Linked DNA regions of Homo sapiens: region 2 is linked to region 1. A link means that fine-mapping ties the variant in region 1 to the expression of a gene that starts in the linked region. Tissue or cell type: whole blood. Region 1 holds a variant in brackets; the other region holds the start of a gene. All regions are shown on one strand. Distances are from middle to middle.

The links. PIP is the estimated chance that this variant, and not a neighbour inherited with it, causes the effect.
Region 2: it holds the start of RRAGD, and the variant in region 1 is fine-mapped to the expression of RRAGD in whole blood (INTERVAL, PIP 0.97).

The regions. Positions count from the first base shown.
Region 1 is chr6:89,374,570-89,382,569 of GRCh38, reverse strand. It overlaps RRAGD (Ras related GTP binding D), which reads left to right. Exons shown (of 7, transcript NM_021244.5): 3 at 2,203-2,402; 4 at 3,232-3,346; 5 at 4,757-4,899. Among named protein-coding and RNA genes, the nearest start is that of UBE2J1, 26 kb to the right of the region's middle. RefSeq lists enhancers at 6,472-6,972, 6,973-7,473. The variant G/A (reference allele first, on the strand shown) is at 4,478.
Region 2 is chr6:89,407,683-89,415,814 of GRCh38, reverse strand. RRAGD (Ras related GTP binding D) reads left to right here and starts at 3,542. Exons shown (of 7, transcript NM_021244.5): 1 at 3,542-3,969. The coding sequence starts at 3,822. RefSeq lists silencers at 3,126-4,315, 4,346-4,455, 4,486-4,585.

The DNA.
Region 1 (8,000 bases):
AGGCTCTCACTCTGTTACCTAGGTTGGAGTGCAGTGGCAAGATCATAGCTCATTGTAACCTCAAATTCCTGAGTTCAAGGAATTCTCCTGCCTCAGCCTCCGAGTAGCTGGGACTACAGGTGTGCACCACCAAGTCTGGTTAATTACATATATATATATATATATATATTTCTAGAGATAGGGGTCTCACTGTGTTGTTCAGGCCGGTCTTGAACTCAAGCAGTCCTCTCCAGTAGGTGGGATTACAGGCACAAGCCACTGCTCCTGGCTTTTGTCCTTTATTCTAAACAACTCTGTAGAGTGTGAAGGATGGGAAGGACTCCATTTGCGGTTTTTCCCTCTTCATAGTTTCCTATTTGTATAATTAATATTTGATTTGCCTAGAGACTAGGGATACATTTTTACTGATGTTTGGAGCATAGAAGAATGCCAGAAAACACCCCCAATTATATTGGCTTTCTGTTTTTTCCAGGTTTGGAGGCACAAGTGGCGGGGCAGAGGGGGAAGGCATTTAGATTCTGTCCTACAGGTCTCTTTCCTTTTTTTTTTTTTGCCATAAAAACAAGACCTGTTCACACCCTTCAAATTGGCAATAAGAGATCTGACACCACCAATTGTTGGTGAGGGTCTGAAGCATCAGATGCTGTTTACAGACTTCCAGGTACAGTCAAGGCACTCCTACCTATGACCTGACAAGTCACCCTTCAGAGTAAGCCACATGTACATGAGACTGTACATATATCATTGTAATCACATATACATGGGAATAATGTCCATCAGCAGGCAAATATAAATTATAGATCATCCATAAAAGGAAGTTTTATAGAGCCATTAAAAGGAACTAATGCACTGTAGTTATGTACTACAGATAACATTCAGCATAGGTGAATCTCACTGACATAGTGTTGAATGAAAAAGGCAAACTATAATATACACACAACTTAATATTTCTTTCCATTTTTAAACAATGTAAATGAATTATATGTGATGTTTGGGGATATATATGTCTGTATTAATGTATACATGAGTGAGAATAAATACTAAACTTGGGATAGTGGTTGTCTCTAGAGGATGAGGGGGTAGAGGGATAGCATGGGTTGGGAGGATGAGGAGAAACACAGAGGGCTTTTGTGTAGGTGTTTTATTTCCTAAATAGAGATAAATACACAGGTGTTCATTATATAGGCATGGGAAGAAGAAAAAAGTTAGTATTGTTTGGGGCAATTCCTCTAGACCAGGGGACTTTTTCTGTAAAGGGGCAGATGGCAAACATCTTAAGCTTTGTAGACTGTACTGTCTCTGAGGAGTTTCTCTAGAGGAAACTTACTCAACTCTGCCATTGTAGCACAAAAGCAGCCTTAGACAATATGAAAGCAAATGAGCATGTTCCAATACAACTTACTTTTAAGAAACAGGCACAGGGCCTGCAGACGGTGGTCTGCTGACTTCTGCACTGAACCAGTGGTTCTTAAAATTGCTCCTCAGCTCCTTCCCCACCCGCCCAGTGGCCTGTATCATGCCTCCATCTCTAATTGTTCATCACAGTTCACAAGAGACTGGAAAAGTTAGGAGGAACAGTATTCTGGGGAAGGTCTTATGTGGAGTAGGGTCCGTTTCTCTTCCTGAAACCGCAACTCTGATCTTTTTTTTTTTTTTTCTTTTTGTGACCGAGTCTTACTCTGTCATCCAGGCTGGAGTACAGTGGTGTGATCTCAGCTCACTGCAATCTCTGCCTCCTGGGTTCAAGCAATTCTCCTGCCTCAGCCTCCCGAGTAGCTGGGACTACAGGCGCATGCCACCACGCCTGGCTAATTTTTTGTATTTTTAGTAGAGAAGGGGTTTCACCGTGTTAGCCAGGATGGTCTCAATCTCCTGACCTCATGATCCACCTGCCTGGGCCTCCCAAAGTTCTGGGATTACAGGCTTGAGCCACCACGCCCAGCCAACTCTGATCTTTATGACTGTCATCAACCTCAGTCATAACTGCCTAAATCAGCTGCATTTTTTTAGCCTTTCTTCTTCCTCTCTTTGTTAACAGAACTTAAATTTTCACACTGGAATTATAAGAAGCCAGCTTGTTGAGGGGAACCTTTGCAACGTATTTCGGGGGGTTGCAGCCACATGGTTTCCAGGTGAAGAGTGTGTGTGGGAGGCTCAGGAAGCAAAGCGGCCTTCTCTCACAGGCGTTGCCTTTGGTCCTAGGATGATTACATGGAAGCCCTGGCCAGGCTCCACCTCACGGTGACCAGGGCCTACAAAGTGAATACTGACATCAACTTCGAGGTGTTTATTCATAAAGTGGATGGTCTGTCAGATGACCACAAAATTGAAACCCAAAGAGATATTCACCAGAGGGCAAACGATGACCTTGCAGATGCTGGATTAGAAAAAATTCACCTCAGGTGAGAACAGAAACCCCTTAAGGATCCCAATAAAGGATGGAAGAAAGCAAGTTTGGGGTTCGGAGTCACCATGATTGGCTTGGCATGGGCAGTAATTTACCTTCTTTTTACCCTGTTTCATGCTGTAGATGGATAGGATTAGGGGAAAATGAGCTTTGCATGTGCTAATGCTAATCTTTAGTGAAAGCGATGTTTTTTTGTTTTTTAACAAATGGTCAAAGCTAAGGTTCTCCCCTCACATGAGAAACACATTATAGAAAACCTATGAATATAATTTTAGTAGTTAGTTGATGCTAAAGTTTACAGTTCTTGATAAAGATATTATCTGTAATTATAAGTAAAGGAGTAGTCTGAAAACAATCCAAATAGGAATCCTCACAAAGGAAAACAATGTTTCCATCATTTTTTGTGAGGTAGTACATGCATCATTTTGTAAATTGGGAAATGGAAAAAAAATAGTTGCTTCAATATCAAGAATATAAGTTACTAATTGGACAACCTAAGAGGCTTGTGTAAAGATGATCTGGCATGGATTGTCTTGCAGAATGTCAGGAAGCTGGGATGGACACAGATTGCTGCGGTTGTAAGCTTGCCAGTTGGCAGATGAGAATAGGCACAGCAGATGAGAATAGGCACAGCTCGGGCTTTTTGGGAGGTGGGGAGGAATGGCTTGTTTTTTACCGAGGTCACTGTAAATTCTGAAGGGGGCTGGACTGTATGTGTTAGGACTATACATACAGAAGGCAGATTACCGGTGTTTTGACATAGCCTAAGCAGCCTGTTCCTCATTCAAAGGGAAAACATGATGAAATACCGTTTCCTCTTTCAGCTTTTATCTGACAAGCATATATGATCATTCAATATTTGAAGCTTTTAGCAAAGTTGTTCAGAAACTGATTCCACAACTCCCAACTCTGGAGAATTTGCTGAACATCTTTATCTCAGTAAGTAAATAATATTCCTGTTTGAGTCACTTGTAGAATTTGAAAATAACATTGCAAGAGTGAAAAAGATCTTATTTCCGATTGCTTCTATAGCATTTCAAGGTCATTTAAGTATTACTTTTAAAGATTACTCCTACGTGTTCTTTTAGATCCTTTAAAATTTAACTCCCAGCCCAGCTTGATGGCTCACGCCCCACTTTGGGAGGTTGAGGCGTTACGATGGCTTGAGGCCAGGAGGTTGGGACCAGTTTAGGTAACATAGTGAGATCCTGTCTATACAAAAAAAATGTAAAAACTAGCCAGGTGTGGTAGCACATGCCTGTAGTCCCAGCTACTTGGGAGGCTGTGGTGGAAGGAGTACTTACTTGAGCCCAGGAGTTTGAGGCTAAAGTGAGCCATGATTGTGCCACTGCACTCCAGCCTGGGCATCAGAGCGAGAACTTGTCTCTAAAAATAAAATATAACTACTCAGATGCATTCCTGCACTTCACTGGTATAATTGGAGGGTTTATTCAAGCCTGTAGGCAATCATTCAATATTAATAGAGCCCCACCAGAGGTAGGGAACATAAAACTTGGCTTTATTGATAAGACGCAAACTGTTGAATAGCTTTTTATAAGTTTAACATGCTATGAGTGATGTGCTGAATGAACCCTACACATCACCAGCTCCAGGTAGGCGCTGCTGAGTTGAATTGAGGCAGACCTATTGGTTATACTCACGTTTACTCTGTCACTACACAATTTTGAGTGTGTTTGTTTAGTGTTTCTAAGCTTATTTTAAAATTTACAGTCAGTAAAAGTATTTTTACTTGGCCTTTTCCTAATTGCAGGTATGTATCTCTACGAGTTAGGAAATATTGCTCAATTTGGTTACCTAAAATAAATAATTTGTGGTCATTCGAATTCTTTTTTTTTTTTTGAGACGGAGTTTTGCTCTTGTTGCCCAGGCTGGAGTGCAATGGCGCCATCTCGGCTCACCGCTACCTCCGCCTCCTGGGTTCAAGCAGTTCTCCTTCCTCAGCCTCCCGAGTAGCTGGGATTACAGGCATGCACCACCACGCCTGGCTAATTTTGTATTTTTAGTAGAGACAGGTTTCTCCCGGTTGGTCAGGCTGGTTTCGAACTCCTG[G/A]CCTCAGGTGATCTGCCCGCCTTGGCCTCCCAAAGTGCTGGGATTACAGGCGTGAGCCACCATGCCCGGCCTCTACTTTTTATTTCTTATGCAAGTCCAGTATAGAGAAGTTTATGACAGTGAAGTTTAAATTGTAATAAAATGATACAATTTAAATTTTTAGTAGCGAGTTTTGCTCATTTTGTATTTTACATTAAGAATGGCATTCAATTTTGTGTAGTCATGACATGGTCTGAAGTTGACTGTTGCTTTAAGGCAACTTTTTTTTTTAAATTTCAGAATTCTGGAATTGAAAAGGCATTTCTATTTGATGTGGTCAGTAAAATTTATATTGCAACTGATAGTACTCCGGTGGATATGCAAACCTATGAGCTCTGCTGTGATATGATAGATGTGGTTATTGACATCTCTTGTATTTATGGGTAAGTACAACATTCTTAAAGGCCACAATCAAGCCATCCTTCCTTCATAACCTTTCAGGCATTTTGCATTTACATTTACTTACTTAACTTTAACATTTTTGTCTTAAATGACTGAAATCTATAAATAAATATACCAGTTAGCATGCAATAATAACAGTTATTGAGCAAATGCCACGCATTATGCTAATCTCATTGCATGCTTCCTATTATTTATTTCAATTTTTTAGCAATAGGGTGTCCCTGTGTTGTCCAGGATAGATCACTCCTGGGCTCAAATGATCCTCTCACCTCAGCCTCTCGAGTAGCTGGGATTATAGGCATGAGCCACTGTGCCCAGGTTATCATTTAATTCTCAACTATTCGATGTGGCAGGAATTACATTTGACCCTTGAACAACACAGGGGTTGGGGTACCAACCCTTTGAACAGTCAAAAAGCCACATATATTTCCCCCCTGACAAACTTAACTATTAATACTAATAGTCTACTGTTGACTGGAAGCCTTACCAATAACATGAATGATTGATTAACACACATTTTGTATGTTATGTATTACGCACTGTATTCTTAACAATAAAGTGAGCTACAGAGAAGAAATTATAAGAAAGAATATATTTACTATTTATTAAATGGAAGTGGGTCATCATAAAGGTCTTTACCCTCATTGTCTTCACATTGAGTAGGCTGAGGAGGAGGAAGAGAAGGGGTTGATTTTGCTGTCTTAGGAGTGGCAGAAGCGGAAGAAAATCCATGTATAAGTGGACCTAGGCAGTTCAAATCTGTGTTGTTTAAGGTCAACTGTAGTGTATTCACTTTACAGATGAAAAAACTGAGGTTCAGAGTGGTTACATTTCTTACTCTTGCTCACACTATCAGTAAGGATTGGAACTGGAGTTTCAACTCAGATCTGATTCCTGATCCTCTGCTGAAAAAAATCTGTTAACATACCGTTCTTAGAAAACAGAGCTTCCTATACACTTAATATAAAATAAACAAGGAGTGGGGGAAACTGATTATGTTACCCGATGTAGAAACAATTCTACATAATTATAAATGTGCTGAACAGGTGGTGTACAGACTGACTAGGTGTGAACTAGTTGTTCATCTTATTAAGATGTTAAGGTGTTGCTATCTGTATTGTATCTGACATCCTCATCTAATCGATGAGGTAAAGCTTTTGCTCATCTTCCTCTTTACTCACTGCCTGTGACCTGCCTTACACAGCTTGACGCTCTGCCTTTCAGCTTTTGTGAGAGTCTAGTCTCCATTTTTCTCTTCCATTGCTTAAAAATCCTTTGCCCACTCAGCTCGGATTCTCTCTGTTAACTGTTAGACACACACACACACACACACACACACACACACACACACCACACACACATGGAAAGTGATACTTACAAGATTGTATTGAGGATGAAATATCATTAGGCTCATAACGTGCCTTTACCTGGTAGACTCTGGATAAATGTAGCTGCCATAATTTATTATTACTGTTATAATTAAACGCTGACATCTGGCTTTAGAAATAAACCTTATTGCCCAAGATTACTGCCCTGAAGCATTCTATTATTTTTAAACCGTTTAAATGGATGACCTTGAAATAGTCATGGAAGATGAACGCACCCTGATTACAGTGCAGATTGCCATGGTAATCAAGTACAATGAACAACACAATTAATCTGGCACATGCTTAACAATGTGCATGATCATTATTGTGCCATATGGTCATTAGCTGTAAGTGGTAAGTTGTTCATGTAAATGATGTTAATCAGAGTTACTTTTACCCAGCTAAAACAAACATGGGGAGGGAGGGGTTAGGAGGAGGTGGCCTGGCTTTGCCGTCAGATTGGTTTTTCTGTGGTGGAGTACAGTGTTCTGAGAACCCACAGGATTCAGTAAGAACCAGTCTGGGTCACAGATGGTTTGTGGGCTCTGGGGTTTCCTCAGATTGTTTGCTGGAGCAGCAACAAGCCAGTCCTGTTAACCAGCAGGAGGCAGGGTTGTGTGCAGAGCCTGGGGCCCTCTTAGGCAATGAGGAAGCAGGTGCCCTTGTAACTGGAGGCCTTGCTGCCCCTCCCCACCTGCCCAGTGGAGACCAGCAGGCCCTAGAATCAGGTGACCTGGTGCCTCAGGAATCTCTCAGCTGAGGCTGTGCCCCAGCTGGCAGCTCTGTGCTCACTCATGCACACACATGCACACGCACATATATGCACACACACATGCACACACTTTAAAATATGTTCTATCTTCATGTGTTTTCATTGCTTATAGATGAAAAACTTGAGTAGTAAAACAGTTTTTGCAGTTGCAAACCTCATCAATTTCTACTTGTAATTTTTGGTGGAGTCTGTTTTTCTAATTTGTTTAATGTTTACCTTTTTCTGATTGTGAAAGTAATACATGCTTATTGCAGAAAATACATAAAAGTCTAAAGAATAAAATTAAAGTAGCCCATAATCTCACCACCTAGAGACAGTCAGTGTTTACATTTTATATAGTTTGTTCTTATTTCCATGTGTAATTTTTAGGATAATGAGATCACATTTGTATGTGAAATTTTTCATCCTGCTTTTTTCATTTAACATTACCACCTGATAATTTTCCTGTATTATTAAATGCTGTTAATAAACAGTGTTTAATATCTATATAGTATTATATTTACTTGGAAATTTTAAATGCTATTTTCTTCATTGGGTAAAACATGTTAAATGTTTCAGTTTCTTGTTCTCAGAACATTACTTATAAGCAAGAGAGATTGAGCCTTAAAATATAGTAGTTAAAACAGTGCAATGGAAGTTAATGAATTCTGTTAAAGCATCTTTAACATTTGATGTCCAGCACTTAAAAGGTTTTTCTTTAATGTTTTGGTAGGTTATAGTGAGTTGAATCCTTTAAAAAAAACAAAAAATACGAACTTCCACAATTTACTTTTTTTTTTTTTGAGATGGAGTTTCGCTCTTGTTGCCCAGGCTGGAGTGCAATGGCATGATCTCGGCTCACTGCAACCCCCGCCTCCCGGGTTCAAGTGATTCTCCTCCCTCAGCCTCCCGAGTAGCTGGGATTACAGGCATGCACTACCACGCCTAGCTAATTTTGTATTTT
Region 2 (8,132 bases), 33 kb before region 1:
CTCAGGCAGTCTTGGACAGATGAAGGCCTAAGACTTATGCTCTTTTTGCATGTCAGCTCATTCCTAGTTGCTCTCTTGTAGCTAACACTTCATATTTACCCACACTGTGGCATTTCCCAAGGTTTGGAGCAAGTAGAAAACTTGGCTGCTATTTCTTCCTGAAGTTTCTCTCAGAAATAGGCTAGATCTGTGTGAAGAGCCATATACTATCTTCCTCCGTTCTTCCCACCCTTCTTTTCTTCTTCTCTTCCTCCCTCCCTTCCTTCTCTCCTTCTTTTCTTTCTCCCATCTCTCTTTTTTTCCATAAGCATTTATTAAGCACCTGTCAAGTATAAGCCATGGTTACATACTTGCCATGGTTACATACCACAGCAGAAACCATGGGTAGCCCAGAGACCAATCTTCACATTCTTCAGAGCACTCTCCTGGGGAGACATCCCCAGACATAGGCTGAGCTCCAGTGCAGAGCGGCCAAGGCAGCAGCCAATTCACTGAGCAGATCCCACGCTGAGTTTCTTAAAGGCTTTCAGGGTTCTTGTAGTGTTTTTCAGTTTTTATTTAAATTCAGAAAGATTCTACACACATGATTTTTTAAATTCAAGAACTTCTATTTCTAGGATATTTTCAACATATCTCTTCTTTGAAAGCTGACAGTATTCAAATGATGTCAGCAAAAGAAAAAAAGCAATCAAGGCTTTTCCTGTTCTGTTCAACTATACATTTCTGAAATGGTAGTAAATTAGAATATCTTAAATCTGTATATGACTCTTTAGCTTGGGGTAGAATATAATTGAGGATTTGACTTCTACTGATTTTTTTGTGGGATTTTATTTTATTCTTATTCTTAAGAATGGTCCAGGTTGGGTGCGGTGGCTCATGCCTGTAATCCCAGCACTTTGGGAGGCCGAAGTGGGTGGATCACCTGAGGTCAGGAGTTCGAGACCAGCCTGGCCAACATGGTGAAACGCTGTCTCTACTAAAAATACAAAAATTAGCTGGGTGTGGTGGTGCATGCCTGTAGTCCCAGCTACTCAGGGGCTGAGGCAAGAGAATCGCTTGAACCTGGGGGGTAGGGGTTGCAGTGAGCTGAGATCATGTCACTACACTCCATCCTGGGTGATAGAGTGAGACTCCATGTTAAAAGAAAAAAACAAAAGAATGGTCCAATTCTCAAGTATCTTGGAGTGTGCCCCAATCTATTGTTTCCTTCTAAGATCTCTCTTCCTGGGGAAGTTAGAGGATCATCAGACATTTCTGTCCTTTCTAGTCCATAGGCACAGTGGGGCTGTTGGATTATGACCTGCCCTTTCCTGATCCCTTGAGTCCATGGGTCTTACACACTTGGCAACCTGCCCAGGAATGCCCTATACGTCTGAGTCTGGGTTGACCTTGGACAGTCTTCTAGATCTCCTAAATTGTTATTTGCAGTTTGAATCAGACCAGTTCAAAGGCCACTTGAGGATGGTGGGCTAGCTATAGAATAGCTGAAAGTCCTCAGCCACACTCTGGGAGGCCCTCCTCCCTGGGGTTTCCTTTGACGGAAGGGATGAAAATAGGCTAGGAAAATTACTCCTAGGAAATGAGCTTTGTAAGTACCTGAGATTTTTTTTCCGCCTCATTTAATCTTCCTAATAATCCTTAGAAGGAGTGATGTTCTATTGATAAGCAATCGGGTTTAGAAGGGCATAAGTAACTTGCCTCTGATGGGAGTATGTAGTGCCTGCTTGTGTTGGTGATGCTCCTTGCACCTCACCCCACCCAGGGACCCACTCCCTGCCCTCCCTATCCAATCTCTGTCCTGGACTAGGTTCCAGGCTCCCTTGCCTTCTGGCTACCAGATGGGTTTGGCCAATGGGAGACACAGGAGAGTGGAGGGAGGATGGATGGAGAGAAAGAGAGGTCTTTGCTCTCTCCTTGATGTGAGGCCGTTCTGGCAGCAGCAGCTTCCTCATCAGTTACAGCTCCTGTTTTGTGGCCCCTCTCCAGGACTCTAGCTCCCTTCCTCACTCCTGTAAATTTAGGGGTGGTGTTATCTTCCCACTATCGCTAATACCTGCATTGATTCCCTAAACTCTGTCCACACCCCTGTAAATTGTTCCTTCACTTGAAGGCTTCAGTTAAAGTCTTTGCACATACCGTCTGTTTCATCCTGGGAAGAACCTTAACTGATACAGTCATACCAAATTATACTGCCTGCCTCCCTTGGAAAATCTCAGGACCTTTCCCATTAGAAGCAGCCACCTTCTGGAAAGTGTCTGCATCCACCTTCTGCACTCAGAAATACTAAAAAAAATCCAGGACATGAGTCATGATTTGGTAGACTGTGAGCTCCTTCAGGGCAGGAACACTGCCCTGAGCATTCTTGGACCCTCTACTTAGCCCAGCCTCAGGCATATAGGAGGTGGTTAATAAATGTTTCCTATGGAGGTTAGCACCCTTGGGCCCTGAGAGTCTCCTGCCCTAGCTTCCTCCCTCCGCTTCTGCACCGCACCACCGGCTGAGCTGCTGGCACCTGTAGGAGCTGGATCATCATGCTGACCGGCCGGTTTTTTCTTATTGTGCTCCACAGAAGGAAGTTCATCCACGTAATTTTTTGCAGTACCCAGAAAGGGTGGGTACAGTGTGTTCCGTGGTGAAAAGCTTGTGAAGGAGGAATGCAGGTTTTAGAGTCTCACTCCACGTTGCTGCTATTCCTATTTGAGAATTGCCCCCCCACCACCGCCACTCCCCTACTCCCACAAAAGCCTTGAAATATTTTATTCATGTGGGATTACAGTCTATGCAACAATGAGACATGAGGAGGTGGCCATGAATAGCCCCCGAGTGTGTTATACACTGAGACCTTTTCCAAAGGGCTGCAGAGGAATTATTTAGTCTAAGCAGCCACGAGTCATGTGATTTCTTCAGAAACATTTACGTCTGGGTAGGCCTGCTTTTTAAATATTCTTGGTGGGAAGCACTTTGAACCATAAAGGCACACTAAAAGACAATTGCTATGGAGACTGCGCCTCCACTGTGCATTTATCTGAGTTCTCCGCCTGGGGCTCTTGAGCGTCCACAGGGTGTCCTGGGCACGCTGCTCTGGGGTGGGGGATCTGGGCGCCACAGTGTTGGGAGGCCACCCGCTTGGGACCCTAGCTCAGGACTGTAAGCAGGAGGCATCCGCCCACGGTAGACGCTCTGCGGGCGTGTGGGAGTGGGACGGCGGGGGGGACATTGAGGGTGTGCGGCGCCCCCTCCCCTGCCTGTGCGGGGACCACGTGAAGGAGAGGCGCGTGGGGGCCCCTGGCGCGCAGCCGCGGTGGGTGACGGCCGGCGTCCCGGGGGCCCCGTGTACGGGGCGTGTGTCGGTGTGAGTCTGGGAGGGTGCAGGGGCCCCGCGCCTCCCCGGTCTCCTCGTGCGTGTGCGTGTGCGTGTGCATGTGTGTCCTCGGCCCAGCGCCCCGCCGAGTGGTGCCCGCGGCCGGGCGAGCGCGCGCGCGCCCGTGCGGGGTGTGTATGTGAGTATGTGACAGTGTGTGTCAGGTGACTCGGGTCACGCAGTCTCTCTCTCTCTCCCTCCTCCGGGAGGAACTGCCGCGCTCCGGCTGACTCCTCCGCCGGCGGGCGGGGCGGGGGAGGGGGCTTCGGGCGCGCTGGGAACCGCGGGACCCGGACCTGGGCGCCGCCCGCCGGGGGACGCGCGGCCCCCGCTTCCGCCGGGCCCCGCTGAGCTCTAGACAAACCTCCGCTTCAGAAATAGGCTGCGGGCGGCCGGCTAGGAGGCTTGGCCCCCACCCCGGGACCCCCGCCGTCCCCGGGCCGGCCGGCCGGTGGGCACGATGAGCCAGGTGCTGGGGAAGCCGCAGCCGCAGGACGAGGACGACGCGGAGGAGGAGGAGGAGGAGGATGAGCTGGTGGGGCTAGCGGACTACGGAGACGGGCCCGACTCCTCCGACGCCGATCCGGACAGCGGCACAGAGGAGGGAGGTGAGCGCCCGGCCCCCGCGTCCTCGGCTCGCGCCCCTTTCCTCCCCTTGGCGCCTTCCCGCCCCCAGCCCGGCCGTGCGCGAGCCACCGACTTGGAGGGGGTCCAGGGGAGCGGGTCCAGTTGAGGGTTTGGGGTGGGGAGGGACGCCAAAAGCCCGACCTCGAGCTGCCAAATGAGGGAGCGCGGTGCTGGTGGCGGAGGGGCAACCAGGATCGGTGGAAAAGGGGAAGGAGGGAGTAAGCGTCTGGGCTGGAGGAGCGCGCGCTTCTGCCCCTTTCAGAGCCGGTGCCTCCCGCGCCCCTCACCCCAAGCTCTCCGCAGCGTCTGGCGGTTGGGGAGGGGAGGGGACCGCGGGCGCGCCCTGGGACCTCTCTCCCAGAACGGTGCTGTTGAAGCCAGGGTCAGATGTCGTGGCTAAAAAAAGGCAGCCGGCGGCGGCGTGACTGGCAGGGTCGTCGGCAGCTGCGGGTGTCAGTCTCGCCCCGCGTCGCCGCGGGAGGGGCCCACCCAGGTAGTGGCTGGGGAGACCCGCGGGGCGGCGGGGGGATGCTCGCCAAGCTGTTGTGGGAGTCTCCGAGAGGCCGCAGATTTCCCGGGATCCACGCAAACACCGTTGTCAGGACACCTTATCTGCTCTCGGTATCACCACCTGGACATGGCAGTGCCTGCCCGGGAGTGAGCGCGCGGCGGGGAATTCTTTGCTTCAATAGTGAAGCAAACTCTTTTTCCTGTTCTAGAAGCGGGTTTTAGCAATCGTTCAGCTTGTGGGGGCTTCCTGCATTTTCTTAAGGTGTAAGGAAGTTGAGAGCCTTTTAGTATTCCAGAGAGGTTAAACTTTTTTTAGTTTCCCTCAGAAGCGAGCAAAAGTTCCTTTACTGTAAGGTCACTTGGAAAGGTCAATAGAAAGCGGCTGTTAAACATGATGTTATTCTCAGTGAAACTGTATGCATCCAAGAGAAGGAACTAACTTTAATGTTTCACACTGAAGAAATTGTGTGAGAGATACAAGTACCTTTGTGACTATTGATTTTTAAAGAACTTTTATTGAGAATTCACTGAACTTATTTTAAATTCTCTATGCAAAGCTTTTCTCACTAGGGTAGTTTCATTATTCTACATCTGGCAGGCACGACTTTCAATGAATCAGAAAGGAAATAAAGTTAACTATGCCTTGCGCCTGGTAGATGAGAAAGCAGCCTCTCAAGTCACCCTTTTTCATAGCGTTTTCTCTCTTGGGATGATTTGTGCTAATTCCTCATTTGCTTAAACTGATGTGTGCACCTTTGTGCTTTCTGTCTTCTGCACTCCCGGTAATTGGTCTTACCGTTGAGCACCAGGCCACATTTTTGTAGATAAAGGCTTTCAGCCGTTTTATTGGAGTCTCTAGAGCTACCTTCCGTAATTAAATTGTTCAGTCGCCTCATTATTATTCAAATTCCATTTGTTAGCTCCTCCCAGATTCTTAGAAGACTCCGGAGAGATGCAGAATAGGGATGTATTTGCAAGGTATTTGAAATGGTGGACACAGTAGGGTGTGTGTGGGATTCTCTTTTTTAAAAAAGAAAAAAAGTGGGGGGGCGGAGGGGCCATATCCAGGAGGGAAAGCCCTGTAATTTGATACTGTCCTGAGGCCTGGAGGGTCCAGAAAAAGTACTGGACCCCTCGTTTATTCTGCAGTTCTTTAAGTGGGCACTTTTAAAATTTGATTTGGGGACTTGAAATTGAAGTGAAATTAAAGCCCTGCTTGAGGGATGGGATTCCCGGAACAAAGGGCTTCCCCAGAGCCCAGACTTGGAGGCTCCTTAGCTGTTAACGTAAAGGCAAACTTGCCTGTAACTGATTTTTGGTGACTCGCATAATAAAATCCTTCTGAATGGGCTTTTGGGATCAGCTTGGGATCTTGCTATAAAAGGATTAAATATATTTATATTGTGAGAAGAGCAACATGTTTGCTCGGCAAACGTTGCTTAAGCCTGGTCTCTGTCCACCTGGGCCTGCAGTGGATAGGTGGTCTGCTTCTCAGACTTCCTCCGTTATATTTTGGCCTCTGTTCTTTCCAGATTTCCCTGGCTTTGACTTTTGGGTTTAGGCCTTGATGCAGAATCCCTTGTCAGGACATTTGCTCTCTAGTGTCAGATAGGCTCCTCAGTCAGCAATTCCAGCGAGGACTGCTCCTGATGGCTGTCAGGCCAGCTGATATGGTCTGGGGAGTGGGGATTGGGAGGAGGAGGTTGGGAGTTGTGACTTCCCTTCCTGTGCCCTTCAAAAGGCTGATTCACGTGTTGCATTATAATCTTGTTTTATTTTTGGTAAAATTTACATTTACCTACTCTCAAACTTAAGAAATAGAATGTAGGGAAAAAAAGGAGTTATTCTGAGAAAAGATGTACTTTGAACCACTAGCAAAGCATTTCTCTAATGAACCCCCACTCCCCTTTCCCCTTCCTAATAGCTTGGTTTAGTGCCTGCACTTAGTGGAGACGTGGGACTTTTTCCACTAAGTTCAGAAATCTACCCTGGTGGGTGGGAGGCTGAGGGTGGGATGTGGGACCAACTAGTATTGCCAGTTAAGTTGCAAAGCAATTTATCAGGAGCTGTGCAAGAGAAGTGGACTAAAGGTGGATATGTAATGCAATTTTCATTTCCCTCAGTCTGTAGGACTTATAAAGGAACCTCTGGTCTTATTTTTAAACCGAGTATGCCTTGTAAATTTTACCACATTGTACTGAGTTTGAAAACATAGGGCAACTAAGGTGAGACTTAAATTGCACTTCTCTGGCTTCCACTCCATATTTTATTCATGAATAGCAAAAGTGTTCTCAGGCACATTAGTTCTGTTAGGGCAGATTTGGGCACCTCTCAACCTTCCTTTCATGGTAGTTAATTGCAGGTAAGGTGAGTCTCACCTTCAATCCCCACACTCCAGATAAAACTACCAGAGAGGAGGGAATGGTTAGGCCGTTAAAAACAATTGCACCAAAAATAATGATTATTTTTAGATTCATGGACTTTAAATCTTTTGATAAATTACTGTGCTTTAAAAACTGTAATAACAGGGAAAGCAATTACAAGATCATATTTAATCAGAAAGTAAAATTGTTTTCCCCCCAAAACCCCTCCCATTTTTTAGGAGAAACTTGGCTAACGTAAGCTGCTCACCCACAGTCCAGTGAAGTTCGGTCTTTGCCTTCATAGCAGCCTGTGCGCACCCTTAGGGTCTGAGGAAGTGACTGTGTAGGTGGTTTCTGGAGGCATGAAAGATCCAGGGTCTTCCTTCCTGAAGGATGTAGATGGGGTGAATCCAGCAATTCATATGTATTAATCATTAGTTCATTAATGTTAGCCTTTTGTGGGGAAGGGACTGGGTCTCTCTATATTGCCTAGGCTGGTCTCGGACTTGTGGGCTCAAGCAATCTTCCTGCTTCAGCCTCCCAAGTAGCTAGGATTATAGGCATGCATGACTGTGCATGGCTTTTTCCTAAAATAATTTTAAAAATATTAGGGAATTCACCTTTTCATTGTTCCTTGGAAGTAAGTAGAGATAACAGTTATACTGATACTGAAATCATGGCTCAGAGATACCAGGGGGCTTTTCTACTGCCCTATCATGAGCTAGAAATGAGCGAAGTATTTAGAAGAGGATCAAGTATATGGAAATGTAAGCCCCTTTTCTTGTAATTCTGCCTTATCCAAAAAGAGCTGGCTTGACTACAGCCCTGGACACAGCTTATCTCTTAGATTTCCTTCTGGCCCTGGAAATACAGAAGAGTTGGAACAGATGAAACTACATAATAGGTTAAAATGATGTGCCCAAAGTTAAACTTTAGGTAAATACTTGTTCGAATGCCTGTATTTAGAGAGTATCTTTCTATATCAGATGTTTTATAAACCTGTGTCAGTGATTCAGGGCATCAGAGAGTACTGACTCTCTACTTTTATTAGCGATCTCTTCCATTTTAATACTAGATAGAGGGTAGTCTAATGGAAACGGGAGGCACAAACAGCAAGTTCTGGATAAGAGCCGATGACTTTGGGTTTGAGAGATCATCTTTTGTCTTTCAAAGATAACTGAGTCTGCCCCAAGTTCACCCCCTGTGTTATTCAATCCTCCCCCAGCCCATAGTAAATGCTGGTGACAATCAATTTCACTTTTAGCACAGAC